2 linked regions of the Homo sapiens genome follow. The protein of the gene in region 2 purifies or fractionates together with the protein of the main gene of each other region. This does not show direct contact. Each region holds a gene or a part of one and is shown on either strand. Other genes may lie near its edges.

What was found.
Region 1: the proteins of CDC42BPG (region 2) and THOC7 fractionate together in Homo sapiens (co-fractionation; one large-scale study listed by BioGRID). This does not show direct contact.

Annotation. Positions count from the first base shown.
Region 1 is NC_000003.12:63,833,362-63,836,729, forward strand, and holds the end of THOC7 (THO complex subunit 7), read right to left. Parts: intron 2,998-3,368; coding exon 2,940-2,997; intron 2,030-2,939; coding exon 1,963-2,029; intron 1,863-1,962; coding exon 1,793-1,862; intron 839-1,792; coding exon 771-838; 3' UTR 509-770; downstream 1-508. UniProt on the Homo sapiens protein: Component of the THO subcomplex of the TREX complex which is thought to couple mRNA transcription, processing and nuclear export, and which specifically associates with spliced mRNA and not with unspliced pre-mRNA.
Region 2 is NC_000011.10:64,831,054-64,834,703, forward strand, and holds part of CDC42BPG (serine/threonine-protein kinase MRCK gamma), read right to left. Parts: intron 3,525-3,650; coding exon 3,376-3,524; intron 3,302-3,375; coding exon 3,213-3,301; intron 2,925-3,212; coding exon 2,872-2,924; intron 2,784-2,871; coding exon 2,685-2,783; intron 2,607-2,684; coding exon 2,547-2,606; intron 2,338-2,546; coding exon of another isoform or gene 2,284-2,337; coding exon 2,178-2,283; intron 1,907-2,177; coding exon 1,773-1,906; intron 1,691-1,772; coding exon 1,551-1,690; intron 1,457-1,550; coding exon 1,375-1,456; intron 1,075-1,374; exon of another isoform or gene 958-1,074; intron 669-957; coding exon 452-668; intron 1-451. UniProt on the Homo sapiens protein: May act as a downstream effector of CDC42 in cytoskeletal reorganization. Contributes to the actomyosin contractility required for cell invasion, through the regulation of MYPT1 and thus MLC2 phosphorylation.

The DNA.
Region 1 (3,368 bases), on a different chromosome or scaffold from region 2:
GTGCTGGGATTAAAGGTGTGAGCCACCATGCCTGGCCTACGCAAAACAATCTTAACAAACTATTTACTTCAAACACTCTTCACTTTATCAATACATCTTTTTCTATTGAAAATGATTCCTAAAGAACAAAACAGTAGAGAAAACAGATCAACAAAACATTTGAGAACCATATTCCTCTCATATTAAGGAGAGATATATAAAGTAATGTGCACTATTTTACTTTGCATCTTATAATTAACGTCCCATACCAGCGAATTTTAACAGCCTGGAACCTCTCTCCACAATAAGCATACACCACTAACATTTTGCATGTAATTTCACAGGTTCATGGTCCTCCTAAAGCCTCTTCATAGACTCCGTTTTCAGAAGTGTAACCATTTCCAGAAATTGGCTCATTTTCCCATGTACATCCTAGAAATGCCAACTTCTAACAATTTTCAACTTATTTTGTAAGCCAATCAATGTTACCAGTTAAAAACTACCTAGAATATTAATGAGCACAAACATATGCAGCTTAAAAGCATTTTATTAAGCATTTTTGGATGTTGCTTCCTACCACTTAAGAATAAAAAATGCATTTTAATAAAAACAAATCTATACTGAAGTCATTTTCCTTTGTGAGAGGAAATATGAATGAAATACATTCATACTTAAAAACAGAGTATTTTACTGCCAAAACTTTAAATATCTCAAGAGCATACCACATTTTAAACACATTATGGTCATGTAGCTATTTCAATATTCCTGGGAGTGGTGGGCAATTAGCCTGTCTATGGCTTAGGATCTGTTTCCATGCTTGCTTCCTGAGCTTCTTCTACCTCTGAGAGTTTTTCATCATCTGTAATTGAGAAGGAAACATAAAACCTTAGTCAAGTTTGCCTATATTTTATATTCGATGAACACATGAAAACATGTTTATCCTTTATTAGCCAATACAATTAAAGCTAAGATGGCTACTAGTTGAATCAAACTTTAAAATTTATGTGATAGACTTCACTTAAAAAAAAAAAAATCCAGGCAGGGTCTGGTGGCTCATGCCTATAATCCCAGCACTTTGGGAGGCCAAGGCAGGTGGATCACCTGAGGTCAGGAATTCAAGACCAGCCTGGCCTACATGGTAAAACCCCGTCTCTACTAAAAATACTAAAATTAGCTGGGTGTGGTGGCATGCACCTGTAATTCCAGCTACTAGGGAGGCTGAGGCAGGAGAATCACTTGAGCCTGCAAGGTGAGGATTGCAGTGAGCCAAGATTGTGCCACTGCACTCCAGCCTGGGTGACAGAGCAAGACTGTCTTAAAAAAAAAAAAAAGAAAAGAAAAAATGGGTCTTAGGCTATTCTTTAAAACAATCAGAAGATCAGGTAACACAAAAATTTCCACTTGCCTATAGTGAATATAAAGAGCAAGTCTCCAGTTCCCCAAAGCACCCACTACTCAGTGGGTATGCAAATGTTCGTATGTACTGATTTCTTATTATTGCCTGCCTGGGTCCTGAGTTGTTATATTATAGTAGTCAACTACAGTGAACCAAGAAAGATTCCAAATCTATCATCCTTGAATTTTTCTTAATTTAAACCACTATGTATATGTTTAAATCCTATATTACTACAAATTAAGACTTTTCTACATGTATTCAAGAAAGTTGAACATGAGTACCTTCTAACGTCATCCAGCTACACTGTTCAGAAATTGAAGGTATACTGTCTCTCCAAGATGTATATTTCAAAAGGTACATCCCTGGGTCATTTAAAAAATCTTCATAAGCATTTACTTTGAGACTATTTCTACTTACTTTCCAATGTTTGCTGAAGTTCATGGATGGTACTAAGAAGAACATGAAACTGTTTCCGTCTCAATTCCAGCTGTGTTAACAAGAAAAAAATTTATACAAATGACCTGTATATATAGATATATAGACAGACAGATAGACAGATCATGAAGGCTAAATATATATGCGAATACCTTATCTTCAACACTTTCTTTAATGTGTGAAAGATGCTCTAATTCTTTTCCCAGAGCCTCTAGTTCCCTGGAAATAATAAAACAGTGTTACATTTTGCTGAATGGGGGAGAAGAGTTTACAATTAATGCCTAACTTTTAAGTTACTAGATAGGATTTTTAAAATAAAAAAAGGGCTTATAAGGAGTTATAACACTCCATTATGGTGAAACTTTTAAAGCTGAGGATGATTTCTTCTTAACTTCTAAATATGGACTCACTTTCATTAAAATTACATTTTTGGATCCATTTTTAAAGTACAGAAAAATACAGATAACAGAATAACAAGACCCAAGAAATGATACATATTGTGAAGTTTAACTTCGAGGGTTTTTTATTTTGGTAAAAGAAATAAAACATTGCCAATTAACTCGAAATACCCTTTGAATCTTACGCCTAGTCCTCTATCCTGGGCCTTTTTATCTCCTCTACCTCCCACTCAGGCAACTACTATATCATTCTTATTCTTTTTTATGCATATACTTGTATCCCTGAATAATACACAGTATTGGTATATAATATTTGAAAGGGGGTTCTAACTTTTATAAATGGTTATTATTCTGTATGTGTTTCAGGAATTTAAATATAATTTAAAGTTTATTATGTGTCTTTTCACTGATTATGTTTTGAGAGCTGTGTTTTAAAAGGGCATAACTAGTTTATTCTTTTTAACTGAAATTCAATATTTTAATATATGAAGACCATATTCTATTTATCCATTGTGATATTGATGCATATTATATGCATTTATTTTAGACATATAGCTGGTAAGGTTAGAGGAAAATAAAATCTAACAGAGAAGTATGGGAAAATATAATATTGAATATCTGACCCCTCCTTTTGAAACATATTTATTTCTGCAAAAATGAAATGCCTACGGTAGTTTTCGAGCATTTATGTATAAAGGTTAGTTCCTTTCAAAGTAAAGCTCTACACTTACTTTAATGTCTCATGCCTGTCTGGATGGTGCTGAATCACTTTTGCCAAAGCATCATATTCTGTAAGACATAAAAATATTTATCAAACTAAGGATTTTTTGAATGTGAATTATCAAAACAAAATGTGTAATATCACAAACCTCTCCTAATCACTTTCCTAGTACATCAAGAAATGAAATCACTGAAAGATGAGTATTGCCAGTTTTAGTTAACTGAGTTATAATTATAACGATACATAACATCAAAAGTGTTCCAAACAGGGGTTTTAGCTCCCACTTTTTTTCCATTTATATGTCCTGGACAGAACGTAAGAGGTCAGCATAAGCATAAGCAAATTTAAGTTATTATTGATTATCAAATAGACTGATTCTGAGAAGGATCTTACTCACTAGTTGTCCAAAAAGTAAAATAAAATAAAATACAATCAGTGA
Region 2 (3,650 bases):
CTAAAAATACAAAAAATAGCCAGGCGAGGTGGTGCATGCCTGCAATCCCAGCTACTCTGGAGGCTGAGACAGGAGAATCGCTTGAATCTGGGAGGCGGAGGTTGCAGTGAGCTGAGATTGCACTGCTGAGCTCCAGCCTGGGCGACCGAGCGAGACTCTGTCTCAAAAAAAGAAAAAGAAAAAAAAAAAGCCTTTGTTCCTTCCACTTGCTTGAGATTCTTTTGGAAAAAGCAGAAACTGAGGCACAGCGAAATGGAGTGGGGATAAGCCAGGCCCCCTACCTGGGGGCCCAGCCATGCACACAGGAGGCTGGAGCACATACGTGGTGCAAGGCAGTCTGTGTCTCGTGGCTGCAGGGAATGGGCAGTAGCAGTGGCCCTTGGGACTATTCCTAGACACCAGCACTCCCGCAGGCCTGAACTGCTTCCTCCAGTCCCCTCCACCAGCTCACCGAGGATGGCAGCGCAGAGCGTGTGAGGCAGCAGCGGCAGCCCGTTGTCGTAAGCCTCCTTGAGTGTGTACACGGGCCGGGGTCTTGGCCGCGCGTCCAGCAGCAGCCGCTGCAGCTCACCCAGCACCTGCAGCCAGCGTTCCCGCTCCCCCTCGCTCTCTGCCAGCAGCAGCACAGTGCACGTGGTGGGCGGCACTGCCAGCTGGGAGGTTGTCACCTGTGGGCAAGGACCCCAGCTGGAGGGCCGTGGACCAGAGCCATCTGTCCTCCCTCCCTTCCTGCCTCCAGCAGCCGCTGTGCCCCGGGGGCCTAGCGTGCACTGTCAGCAGCAGGGAGTAGGCCAGACAGGCAAACAGACAACTCCAGAGCCATGCGACCAGCGCCATAATGGGGCAAGGACGGGCCTAGTGGGAACACAGAGGGACCCAAACCGGGGCCGGGAAGTGAAGGATGACTTCCCAGGAGACCAGACATTTCTGCTGAAGCCTGAGGGACGAGTAACTAACCAGGAGTAGTCAAGGTAGGTGAGGGGCTGGGCTCCAGTGCAGGGCCGGCAATTTCGTGCAAAGACAGATGTGAAGGACTGAGAATGTGGTGCACACAGGCACAGGGCGCCTTCAGAACTGGAGAGAGCAAGGTGTGACCAGAGCAGAGACAGGTGCCAAGGGAGAGGGCTGGGAGGCCTGCAGGGTCAGAGCCTTGGGGCCTCAAGGGCTAGGTCAGGAGCACCCCGAGCCCCGCAGACGATGGGAAGCCACAGCAGATCCTAAACGAGGTGAGACCGGGCCAGGTGCTCACGTGGAAAGCGTGCTGTGGTTGTGGGCTGGCCCAAGAGGGCAGTATGAAGTGGGGGGACAGTGGCCAGAGCTGGGACAGCATGGGGAGGTGGATGGTGGCTGCTCCATCTCATCCCAGGCACTCACCCTAAAGATGCGTGGCAGGTCCCTGGATTGGGCATGGATAACATCAGAGGCCAGGACAGGGGTAGCCGAGAACTGGGGGTCCCTGGGAGGTTCACAGAACAGGTCAGAAATCTCCCTGTCCCTGACTGCCCCCCTTACCACTAGTCCCTTGCCCCATGCCACTGCCCGGCACCTACCTCAGATCTAGGACCTGCAGGAGGGCCCCACTGGGCGGGCTGAGCCTCAGGTCAGGGGCGTCAAACAGCAGCAGGCGTGAGTCACTCAGGGCAGCAAACACGCGCTGCCAGCCCCGCCGGACACCTGAGGGCCGCGGCACCTGGCGGAAAGGCAAGCATGGGAGGGCTGCAGGGACCCTCAGCCCCCCATGCCCATCTTCCCCTCCCTCGGCCCCCACTCACCGACAGAAAGCCCTCATAGGCAGTGCCTGTGCCTGTTTCGGGGTGTACTCCCAGGGCTGTGCGGAGGAGGTCAGGGGGCACGGGGCAGGGTGGGGCCTGTGGGGCACAGGTTGTGTGACAAAAGTAGCCGCAGGCTGTGGGGAAAGTGGAGAAGGTGGATGAGGTGAGGCTGGGAGGGGACAGCCCCAAACCAGGACGGGGGCATGTCCAGAGCCAGCTTCCCTGAAGCCACGGTGGCACCCGAACTGTCCCCAATTCCTCATCAAGTGAGAAAAGGAACAAAGCTGAGCAGGAGGAAATTTGACCAGCAGGTGCCAGTGACCCTGGGATGGGAGAAACAGCCTGGGTATGCCAGGGCCACACACCTGGGACCGTGGCTGGAGCATAGTGGGTGGGGACTCTCACCATCACAACCCAGGCCCTGGCGGCCCAGGCCCAGCATCAGCGAGGTGCAGCGGAGACACTTGGTCGGGGATGGGAAGCTCCGGGGGCGCAGCGTGTGTGAGCCGGGCTGGGGAGGGGGACAGCCATTACCCAAGGCCTCCCAGGGCCCCATGCCCCATCCCTGAGGGGTCAGGAAAGACAAGGGGCTGAGCCAGGCAACAGTGACCTCCGAGTCCCAGCCAATCTATGGCGGCAGGCAAGCTCATCGCCACCACCTCCACCCCAATTGTGCCTGCTAGCCACGATGCACGTGGAGTGTCCCCACAGTGCCCATTCAGCCTGGCAGAACTGCTTGGTGCCCCCACCCTGCTTGCCCCTCTGGGCACTGACCTTAGCAGGAAGACCTTCTGTAGAGGCTGTGTTGGCAGTGGGTGCTCTGGGGAACACAGCCTGCAGGAGGGCGGGGGAGCAGGTGAGACGGGCAAGGGCGGGGCCCAGGCCCCCTACGATGGACCCACCTGTCCTCACCCCCATGCGCAGGCTGCGTCGGCCCTCCGGCCTCAGATCTGGCTCTCCTCCATGCCTTGTGGCCTCTCCTGAGATGCCAGGGTCCTTGGCAGAATCCTTCTGGGGGTGGGAGAGAGAGGAGCAAAGTCAAGGTCCCTGTGCCTCTCCCAGAACTTCTCCCCAACAAGCCCCTTGGCCTGGTCCTTACCTCTGAGCTCCGGAAGGACAGGAAGGGAATCAGGGAGTTTGAGGGCTTGGTGTCTGCAAAGAAAGGGTGGGTCACTGGCCTGGGGTCCCTGGCCTGAGGAACTAGGGTCCAGGAGGGGCCTCAGTTCCCACCTCAGTAAAATGGGAAATGACCACAGGGTGGGGCAGGGCTGGGCACAGCAGGCACTCCAGAAGTGCTGGTCACAGATGATGGAGTAAGCGGCAGAGTCCAGGAACAGACTCCTGTCTCCACCACCCTGCCAGGCCATCGTGGAGCCCCCTTGGCAAGTGGGAGGCCGCGGGGGAGCCTGGCTCCGGGGCAAGCAGTTGGCAGCCACTCACCCACTGGCCCTCGGGCCCGCAGCTCCTCCCGCAGCATGGCGAGCTCCTGTTGCAGGGCCTGGCTCTGCTTCTCGGCCTCCTGCAGACGGCTGGGGAGAATGGCAAGGGCTCGCCACTGGCCTCTGTGCGGGCCCTGGCCCCCAGTGCCTGCCCCTAGCCTCACCGCTCAGCCTGCAGCTGGGCCTCCTGCACCTGTGTCAGCCGCTCCTGCAGGCCCTGCTTGGCGCGGATCTCGGCCTCCAGCGCTGACTGCAGCTCCAGCCTGGCCGAGGCCTCCATCTTCTGCAGTCGCCGCGCCTTCCACTGGTGGTCCTGGTGGCCACGGAGCACCCGTATAAGATGCTTTCTAGGCCTGGCTGCCTCAGGGACCCCCTGCTACCAGAGCATCCTGCTACCCATGCCACCCAGCCAGGCTCAAAGCTCCAGCTCAGCCAATGA